2 separate regions of the Homo sapiens genome follow, and region 1 is linked to region 2. Evidence: fine-mapped expression QTL. A gene starts in region 2. The other region holds a variant in brackets. All regions are shown on one strand. Distances are between the middles of the regions. Region 1 has its middle 22 kb from the start of MGAT5. Region 2 holds the start of MGAT5 (alpha-1,6-mannosylglycoprotein 6-beta-N-acetylglucosaminyltransferase).

Evidence for each region. PIP is the estimated chance that this variant, and not a neighbour inherited with it, causes the effect. A credible set is the group of variants that fine-mapping cannot tell apart.
Region 1: its variant is the best candidate, but not a certain one, in a credible set for the expression of MGAT5 in whole blood (TOPMed, PIP 0.51).

The regions. Positions count from the first base shown.
Region 1 is chr2:134,229,828-134,234,827 of GRCh38, reverse strand. It overlaps a transcript of MGAT5 not described here and the pseudogene RNA5SP104. Among named protein-coding and RNA genes, the nearest start is that of MGAT5, 22 kb to the left of the region's middle. The variant T/A (reference allele first, on the strand shown) is at 2,166.
Region 2 is chr2:134,251,905-134,256,904 of GRCh38, reverse strand. MGAT5 (alpha-1,6-mannosylglycoprotein 6-beta-N-acetylglucosaminyltransferase) reads right to left here and starts at 2,833. Exons shown (of 16, transcript NM_002410.5): 1 at 2,261-2,833. The coding sequence starts at 2,501.

The sequences.
Region 1 (5,000 bases), 22 kb after region 2:
GTGTCTGTTACTTTATCCTAATTGCTCAACTATTCTGGACTTTCTAAACAGCAGCTGGTATTGTTCTCAAATATTGACTTCTGCTAATCACTTTCAAAGGATTCTGAGCACTGGCTTCCAGCCCTCATTCACCACCCAACACAAGCTTGTGACTTAGTCACACCTTATTGCTAATCCCAAGAAACGAAGGGAATTTAAAAGCACCTGGTGAGAGAGAAGCAGGCCTCAGAATCCAGAAAGCCTAAGTGACTTGCCCAGGGCCACAAAGACTGTCAAGGTAGGGTGAACAAACTTGTCCCCGTTGGTCACCCTAGTTGAAGGACAGAGCCACATTGCTGTGTCTTATGTATGGACCCCCATAGTCTTATAATTCTTGATATATACATACATTTGACTTTTAGCTTTATGATCTGCTCCCTGTTGAGACTCAAACTTCTTGAAGGAAGAGATTCAAATCTTTCTGTGAACTAACTACTTAATATCTGTTGGGAAAAGTCCTTGTAGCCCCCTTGGTTAATAAAGATGGCTGCTGGTGGTGCCCTTGCAAACTATAGGCATCACTGCTCTAGGAGTCTCTTGGAAGAACCTGTAAGTCTTGACTCCCACCAACCCCTGCCCCCAATCCCCGGCTTCCTTCTCAGCCCCCAACTACTTCATCACATCAATAACAAAGTATGAGAAACACAGAAAAATGAAACACATGAGCAACTTTCAACTGACTGTTTCCTTCTCTCTTTAGACCACAAAGTCTCCCTGCTCTAATGAGATTATTACCCATCATGAAAGGACATAGCATCTAGCGTTCTGATTTCTCCACTCAGAGATACACCTCAGAAGGCAGCTTCTCAGCTGTGAAAGAAGTTGGCCTTTGCAATCCTCTCTTAGAAGTCTGCTTCGGAATTATTCAAGAGAGCCAGAGTCAAACCTAGAGTGTTGTGCATGAATAGAGAGGCAATCTGGTGTGGCAGAGAGGCTTGGGAATTAGATTCAGATTAAAATCTCTGCACTGACATAAGCCAGCCCTGTGCCCTCTTGAAGTTACAGAAATGAAGATCCAGTTTCCTTATCTGTAAAATGTCTACCTGCAGGGTTTAAATTTGCAAAGGGCCTAGTCTAGTGACCGATCCTTGATGAGAGTTACTGGAGAAGTCTCATGACTCCTACAATGAGCCCCAGAGGCCTCTGTGAGTAAGGTGGAAGGACCTAGCCTTCTGCCTGATCTAAATACATTAAGATCTGCCTTTGCTGACCTAGTTTTATTCTAAAGCAGTTGTGGTTTTCTTTCTTCCCTTCAGTTCCTTTTCTCAAAGGATGTAAGCATATCTGTGTGAAACACATAAAAAAAATGCACCAAGTGTCAGCAAAATGTTACTGTAACTGATAAAAAGGCATTTTCTATCTTGTCCATCAGTTTTGATGAGGAAGCAAAGCAGACTAGCCCAATTCCTAGCATTGGTAAAGATTGCTACTTCAAAGAATTTTCTGGGTCAGCACCTAAAAGTCTGAAATCCATTCCACTGAATTCATTATGACCCATAGTAATACCCCATCTCTCAAAGCAAAACTACACTGTGATTCATTGCATAGAGCCATTCCCTGGTAGACACTATATTTTAGACTTATGAATAAAACAAGTACAGAAAACAAAATAAAACACAGAACCAGCCCTGTACCCTTATATTTTACAATCTACAAAAAACAAAGTCAGATTTACACATACCTGGAAAACAACTCACGATGACATCATTTTAAGCTAACTGAATCTTGGATTCAAGAAGAATCAATGTCTATACTATTCTTCTAGCATAAAACCTGTTGTGGCAGTTTTAACTTTTTAACTTAAGAAAGTTATGACCTTAGGTCACTAGACAGAATTACATTACTCAAATGTATTCTTGGCAAACTCTTTGGGGATATAATTCACTCTGCAAGGAAAAACTGGTAATTGCCACCAATATCTCACACACATGTACATACAAGAAGACACACCATAACACACCATAACAACCACCACCCACAGAATCAAGAAGACCCATGCCATTCTTAAATGAAAATGTGCACCAGTTAAGAAATAATCTAACATCTCAGGTTAGCAGGAAGTGCCACACTCCAACCTAACAAGAAAAATGGGCATTAAAAAAACATTACATAGGTCTGTGGTCTAT[T/A]AACAGTAACCTGTTAGTATCAACTTCCTGGTTTGGTATTGTAACAGAGCATGAAATCTGGGGAAGGATGGGTCCGTGGGTCTCTTTGTACTGTTTTTACAACTTCCTGTGAAATTATTTCAAAATAAATTGTTTTCTAAGCATTACTTATTGGGTATCATCCTGTTTGGGGAGATTTTTCAAGATGTAGAAGCCCTTTCCCAAGGCCCCTCTTCAGCTAATGGGTCCAGAATAGGATATACACCTAAATACTTTGAAAAGGGTTCTGGTTCCTAGATGATCTGAAACTCCTCCCCTGTTGAGTAAGAACCACCACCAAATGGCAGGTAAATCACTGAAGACATTTAACAGTGCTGAGGCCACCATATTTGATATTGGCTGCTGTGTAGAGGATGGGTTTGAAGGGTGGCTCATGAAAATCCGGGTGAGAAATGAGTCCAATAAAGGCCTGAACAGGGTAGTGGCAGTCCAGTCATAATAAGAAACCAAATGCTAGAAATACTTAAGAGGTCAAATCAGCAGGACAGTGGGCAATGACTAACTGGAAGGAATGAGGGAAGACGAGGAGGAGGAGGAGGAGTATAGAATGACCACTAGGCTTCCAGCTTGGGCAGCTGAGGAAAAGGTGACATGTCATTCACCAAGACAGGAAAATGGAGGAGCTGGTTTGTGAGGGAGGATGGCTGCCTGAAGCTTCCACAGAGCAATAGTACTATATCATATATTGCAGACAGAACGATCTTTGTCTAGAGAGGTAATTCCTTCTTCCTCAACTCACTGGGTGTAAAGTACCAGGGGACAGACAACTCGGCACAGCAGGCAAGAAGGACCAGCCACTACTCAGCCATGTCAGCCACTTGGCCCCGCCCTGGTCTGATCATTTTCACAGCCAGCCACAAACCCAGTGATCTTTCCCCAAATACCTCCAGTGGGTAGAGAGCTACTCAACCAAGCTGCTCCCCACAGGTTCTAGAGGGTCTGGGTTTCTAACATTTCTATTAAAAGAACTCCAGAGGGTGAATGAGGGAAATCATCCATCAATAAATCAAGCAACTAATTATTTCACTTTGCCATAATCTCTTTAAGAAATGGTGTTCCAAAGTGAAAGGAAGAATTCCACATGAGAAGACATCAAGACAGCCTATGAAGATCTTGACATAGGAATTTGTACATTGCTACACAGGAAGCATTTACCACCCACCACAGAGGAATGCAGTTTATTTGATAATTATTTGTCTAGGTTATAAACCCTTTTTGTAACAGTTTACTGAAATATAATTCACATACCATACAATTAACCAACTTAAAATATACAATATAATGGTTTTTACTGGGCTCAGAGTTGTACAAGCATTACAACAATCAGCTTTATAACTTTTCTCCCATATAAGTGCCAACCAGGCTCAACTCTGCTTAGCTTCCAATATCAGAACAGATTGGACACATTCAAGGTAGTGTGGCTGTAGAGAATTTCATATAACATTTTATCATACCCAAAAGAAACCCACACCCTTTAGCTACCACCTCCTAACCCCTCCTCCTCCCCACTCCAGCTCTAAGCAAGCACTCATTCTACTTTGGTGTCTCTATAGATATGCCTATTCTGGACACTTGATATAAATAGAATCATAATATGCAGTGTTCTTTGACAGCTTTCTTTCACAAGGTCCAATGTTGTAGCACATATCAGTGCTTCATTTTGTTTACAGCCAAACAATATTCCATTGAATAGATGCATCACATTTTGTTGATCTATTCATCAATTGATACTATTATGAATAAAACTGCTATGAGCGTTTGTGTATGACTTGATGGGTGTGTGTGTGTGTGTGTGTGTTTTCATTCCCCTTGAGTATATACCTACGAGTAGAATTACTGGGTCATATGATAACTCTGTATTTAACATTTTGAGGAACTGCTAAAATGTTTTCCACAGTAGCTACACCATTTTACATTCCTACCACCAGTGTATGAAGGTTCCAATTTCACCATATTCTTGCCAACACTTATTTGTCTCTTTAACAATTTTTTAAATTGACAAATAATTGTACATAGTCAAGGGGTACATAGTGATGTTTTAATACATAGAATGTATAAAGAGCAGATTAGGGTAATTGCATAGCCATCATCTCAAACATTTACAATTTGTGTTGGCAAGGTTCAATATCCTATTTGAAACTATATATCATGGCTAACTATAGTCATCCTACAGTGGTATGAAACACTAGAACTTATTTCACCTATCTAGCTGTAATTTGGTATCCTTTAACACAGGGGTCCCCAACCCCCAGGCAGTGGACCAGTACCAGTCCTTGGCCTGTTAGGAACTGGGCCACACAGCAGGAGGCAAGCAGCCAGCAAGTGAGCATTACCACCTGAGCTCCACCTCCTGTCATATCAGCGGTTGCATTAGATTCTCATAGGAGCACAAACCCTGTTGTGAACTGTGCATGTGAGGGATCCAGGTGGCACACTCCTTATGAGAATCTAATGCCTGATGATCTGAGGTGGAACAGTTTCATCCCAAAACAACCCCTTCATCCGTGGAAAAATTATCCGCCATGAAACCAGTCCCTGGTGCCAAAAAGTTTGGGGGCTGCTGTTTTAGTAAATCTCTCCCTATCCTTCACTTCCCCCATCTTTCCCATCTGTCTTTTTGATGACAGCCATCCTAACAGATGTAAAGTGCTATTTCATTGTGGTTTTGATTTCCATTTTCCTGCTGACTAAAGAGAGTGAGCATCTTATCTTTTCATGTACTTACTGATTATTTGTTTTTCTTTTGGGGGAAATATCTGTTCAGATCCTTTGCTCATTTATTAATTGGCTCATCTG
Region 2 (5,000 bases):
CCAGAAACTCAGCTCCCAAAACCACTTTGATACGTTAAAGTTGATTCGATGAAAGAGAAAACTAGCAGTGTCAGTTAGAGTTGCTGATGTGACCTGTTTGATTGTTTCTTTGTTGTTTTTGAGAAAAAGACAAATTATTTTGCTAAGGTTCATCTACGAAAGTAAGTTGGAATAAATAATTTCTATAGTTTCTTTGAGATGCAAAGTCTTATGATTACAGGCATATAAGGTGGCTGAAATTCTAACAGCCTATTCTGGGATTTTTTTGTAACTTAAAAAATAATATTTCTGTGAGGCTGAAAAGCTAAGACCAAATTATTGTCCTTTAAAATGTGGGGAAGCCTTCCCTATGAGATTTTCATCAATACACAAGAAATACAAACAGCCAAAACAACTGCAGAAATTTAAAGCCTATAAATTTGCTATTTGTGGGGCTTCTTCTTGCCCATGGAAAAGGTTTGACAGACTGAGAGAAACAAGAGAAAATTACCACTGAGCTGTAACTCTTTCCCTTCAAAGCTGTAACATGAAATGCATACAACCAGAAACTTTAAAACTGCACCTGTGTTACCTGCTGTGTCATATACATTGGTAACACTAATGGTGACAATCAGCTTTATTTTCTGTTGGTTTATCTAAACTACTCTGGAAATGTTACACAAATGTGAGTCAATGAGCAATTTTAAAATGCAACTCTAGGAAAAACTACCTAGTTACTTTTCAGTGTAAGCTCCCACAGTGGAATCTCATTTTTTAAATCCATCAGTTCAAAAAAGGTACCATTTTTTTAGATATATTAAAAGCCAATGCCTACAGACACTTTTAACAGATTAAATGCAGAGTGTGATTATTTACATAGTAAGAACTAGAAAAGAATTTCTAAAATGTTCCTCAGAAGTAAGCATCTTCTAATATATACACATACACACACACACATACACATACGTGTGTATAAAATTTTACATACTTTTTTAAAAACAAGTTTTTTTCCCCTTTTGGAAAGAAAGAAGCACATGTATAACTGAGTATGATTTCCTGTGTCTGAACTCAACCTGCACTGAACTGAACTGTTGCTGCACATTTTTGGGAATCACGATTTGAAATCGGCATACTTCAGGGCACCTTCCTTGAGTGGGTCACAAAACACAACTCCACTTTCTCCACCTCACCTAACCCCATTCTTGCATCTCATCTATACTATCAGGGAGACCACTTCAGTGAGACCACTGAAACCTCAATTCAATGATCAGACTCTTGTCACTCAACAACAGGTCATCTTCTACAGACCAAGTCTGCTCTGCAAAACACAGCATGATCTAAATTCCATTTGCAATTTTTTTCCAAGTATTTGTGTGTGTATGTGTATGTATATATATATGTGTGTGTATATATATATGTGTATATATGTGTATATATATGTATATATGTATATATATGTATATATATATTTGTGTGTGTATGCAAAGTATCAGAAAAATACACACTGAAATGTTAATTGTGGTTATTGCCTGGAGTAGTAGACTTATGTGTAATTTTTTTCTTTTTTTGCTTGTCTACAGCTTCCAACTTTTTCTATATTAAACATAAAAGAAAAATAAGTTACATCCCATATGTGTATTTTTTTACTCTTTCTGATTTCAAAAAGAATTCTGAAAAAAATTCTTTAAAGAAAAAGCAACAAGTACACAAAGATTCCTTTCAAAGTGAGGGCAGTTAGAGACAAGGGCAAGAAGAAGAGCAACATAACCTCAAGAAGCCAAAGGTTAAAACTCACCAGCATGCAAGTGCCAGTGTCATATTTATTGGCTGGAGGGAGGAACACAATTGGCTCTAAGTTTACTGGCTTCCATAGAACATTCCTCCCCATCCTCTTCACCTCACCCCCACCAGCCTTAATTAAGTTTTGTTTAGGGAAAGATGAGAATATTTTTCAGCATTCCCTGAACTCACTCCCACATGAGATCACATGGTTCCTGAAATGTGTTCAGGGAGAAGGAGCTAGCTGCAAACACAACCAATAGAGCCCTAACTATACTAACCCACTGACTCCAGGGGAAAGTGTGTCTGCATACACCAGCTCAGAACCCCCAAAATGGCATTGCTTTAATTTCCTAAAGATGCCTCTCTGTGTGCAATTCACTGCTTATGAAGGCAGTGGCAAAGGACATTCAGTCCATGACAAGACCATATCTGGGAGCTTCTAGGGCCATTTCAAGGCCAAGGCACACTTTAATGGAGAGGTCCCAGAAACAGTGCTTACCATAAGCTGTCATGACTCCAGCGTATGGCCCATCCACCACATTCCTGTTTTCTTCTGCCAGTGCCTTGATGTACCTTTTGCTGAGGTCCAGGATCTGCTCGCGCAGCATGGAGCTGCTTTCAGGCTGAGTTCGCTGCTGGATGGTAAAGTGCAGAAGCATCATACCCCAAATGAAGCCAAAAGTCACCAGGAAAAAGCCCAGCTTCTGAGAGGACAACTTCCACGGAGTGAAGAGAGCCATTGCTCTCTGGCAACTTCACCTGTCCTTGGCTCTTAACGCGTAGAAGATAGACACAAATTCATGGTGTAGGTTGAGTGTGAGAGTCTGCTGGTCTCACTCTGGCTCCTGTGTCAGCTGGTTGCCTTTCCTCACTTCCATTCTGCTGTGAAGGAGGAGAAGAATTAGCCAAGTGGTCATGGCACAATACAGCAAAATAAACCAGAAGCCATGTTTTCACTTGAATACCTCTAAGTAAAATGTCAACTCTTAAATTTGCTGGTTCAATATCTTATGATTCAGGAACTGTAAGCTGAGGGGAAATCTGGCTAGGCAACAAGAAGCTAAGCAATTATGAAGGGGGAAGTGTGCGTCTGCGTGTGTTAACAGGTGTAGTGGGGCTGTTCCAGCCTGGACCAAATTCAAAACAGGAAGTTTGTTTTGCAAGGTGGGGAGGAGACAGAAGGATATTTGGCGGAATGTCAGCAAAAACGGGGAGGGTGGAGTCATATCACCATCAGGCCCTTTTGTGTGCCTGTAACTTAAGCTTACAAAGTCATTATTATGTGCTTCTGGCAAGGACTAGAACATGCAACTGGTGAGGTGAGCAAGAAAGTGGATGCCCCCTTGGGGGTAACTAGACAAAGAAGAGGTAGATTGCTACATCTTATTTGAGCATGGCCAGCTTTCACCATCAGTGTTTAGTGATGAGATGGCTCTCTCAGGGCCACCAGGCAACCTCTCTAGGTGCACCAGCACAGAGAAGATATGCCAGAGGTACAAGCAGGGGTATTGCTTTCCCAGCTACATGAGGAAAAGGTACACCTCACTGCTCACTTGCATGCTGTAGCACAAGAAATGTGGAACACCTGGCAGGCAGATTTTCTGTGGTTCTCACTTTCACTCCCACCATGAGGCAAAATGAGACATTAAAAGGCAGAGTAGTTTCAATATTAATGCAGCCAGATCCTATCTAATGCCAGCACAGACCAGGCCACTCTTCTCAATCAGGGCTTCCCAACAAGTAGGACCTGAGCATAGGTTGCAAATGGTTACCAGCATGCCCACCCCTTCAGCCAGAGTCCTGGGCCCAATACCAGTCAGCTTACGAATAGCGCCATTTTCTAAGTGCCACTCAAGGGAGAGGCTGAGCAATGATCCGATCCCTTATAAGAGACTAACCCAGGCTGTACTTCAGAGTGTACATACATGCTTCAGTCAAAGGATTCTTCTTTGCAAGCGGCCCAAAAGAAAATGGTAGCAGGATCTTGAAGCAATTAGCTTTCAGAGCCCTGGATCACTGTTGGTCTGCCTCTTACTGTTTTCCCATTGCCTATCAACAGAGTAAAAATAAATTATAAATTCTAGCTATATCCCAGATATTGTGACATACCATCTTTTGTGGCTTTGCTCACTGAATCCTCAGAAGTTCTATATGGTAAGAAGTATGAATATTATCGTCTCTGTTTTATTAGAAACATGAGAAAATAAAGGTAAAAGGTGATTAACTTGGCAAAGGTCAGCCAGCTATGTGGCAGAGGACTGATCATCTAGGCATGGCCCAGGGGTTATTAAACCATGCCCCACCTTCCCTACATCATCCTCACTCCCCCAACAGCCTGTTTGTATATGGCAGAGAATGATATATATATGCTTAATGGGTCATGAAAAGCAATAAAAAATATGTAACAGATACTCTTTGTAGCCCAGAAGGCCTAAAATATTTACTATCTACCTCTTAACAGAGAAGGTTTGCCAACCTCTCAATTCTAGACCAGTGGTTCTCCAAATGTGGTCCCAAACTCAGTAACAGCAGCATCACCAGTGAGAAATGTGAATTCTCAGGCCCCACCCACACCCACTGAATCAGCAACTGAGGAGATGTGGTCCACAGCCTATCCTTTAACAAGCCTCGAGGTGATTCTGATGCACACTCATGTTTCAGAGCCCTTGACCAGGCAGCCTGATTCCAGACCCATACATTCCATCACTATTCAACACCCACCACAATGCCTATTAAAATGAGGCTCAACCTCTGTCTTGTACTATCATAACGTAAGTTCCTCTGCCCCATCACACCCCTCTCCCACTACGTACCTGCTGGTCTGCTCATTACCATAAACCCTGCACATGCTTCCTGAGAGGCTTCCCCTTCTTCACTCGGCTGCTCCTCCCACCCAGCTGGCACATGAGTGCTCTCTATTATGCTGACAATCAAACCCAGCCTGTTTGCCAGACCCCAGCTCTAGTCCCACCACCTGCCTCAGACCACTTTCCCCAGGGCTCCAGCCTGCAGTGTTCCTTTCCTAGTCTTACAACACTTCTCTGACAATGGAATACTATTCAACCAGAAAAAGAGAGAGAAATCCTGTCTTTTGCAGCAACAGGGATATACCCGAAGGACATTATGCTAAATGAAATAATCCAGGCACAGAAAGGCAACTACCGTACAATCTCACATGCAGAAGCTAAAAAGTTGCTATCATAGGAGATAACAGAACAGTGGTTACCAGGGGTGGGGAG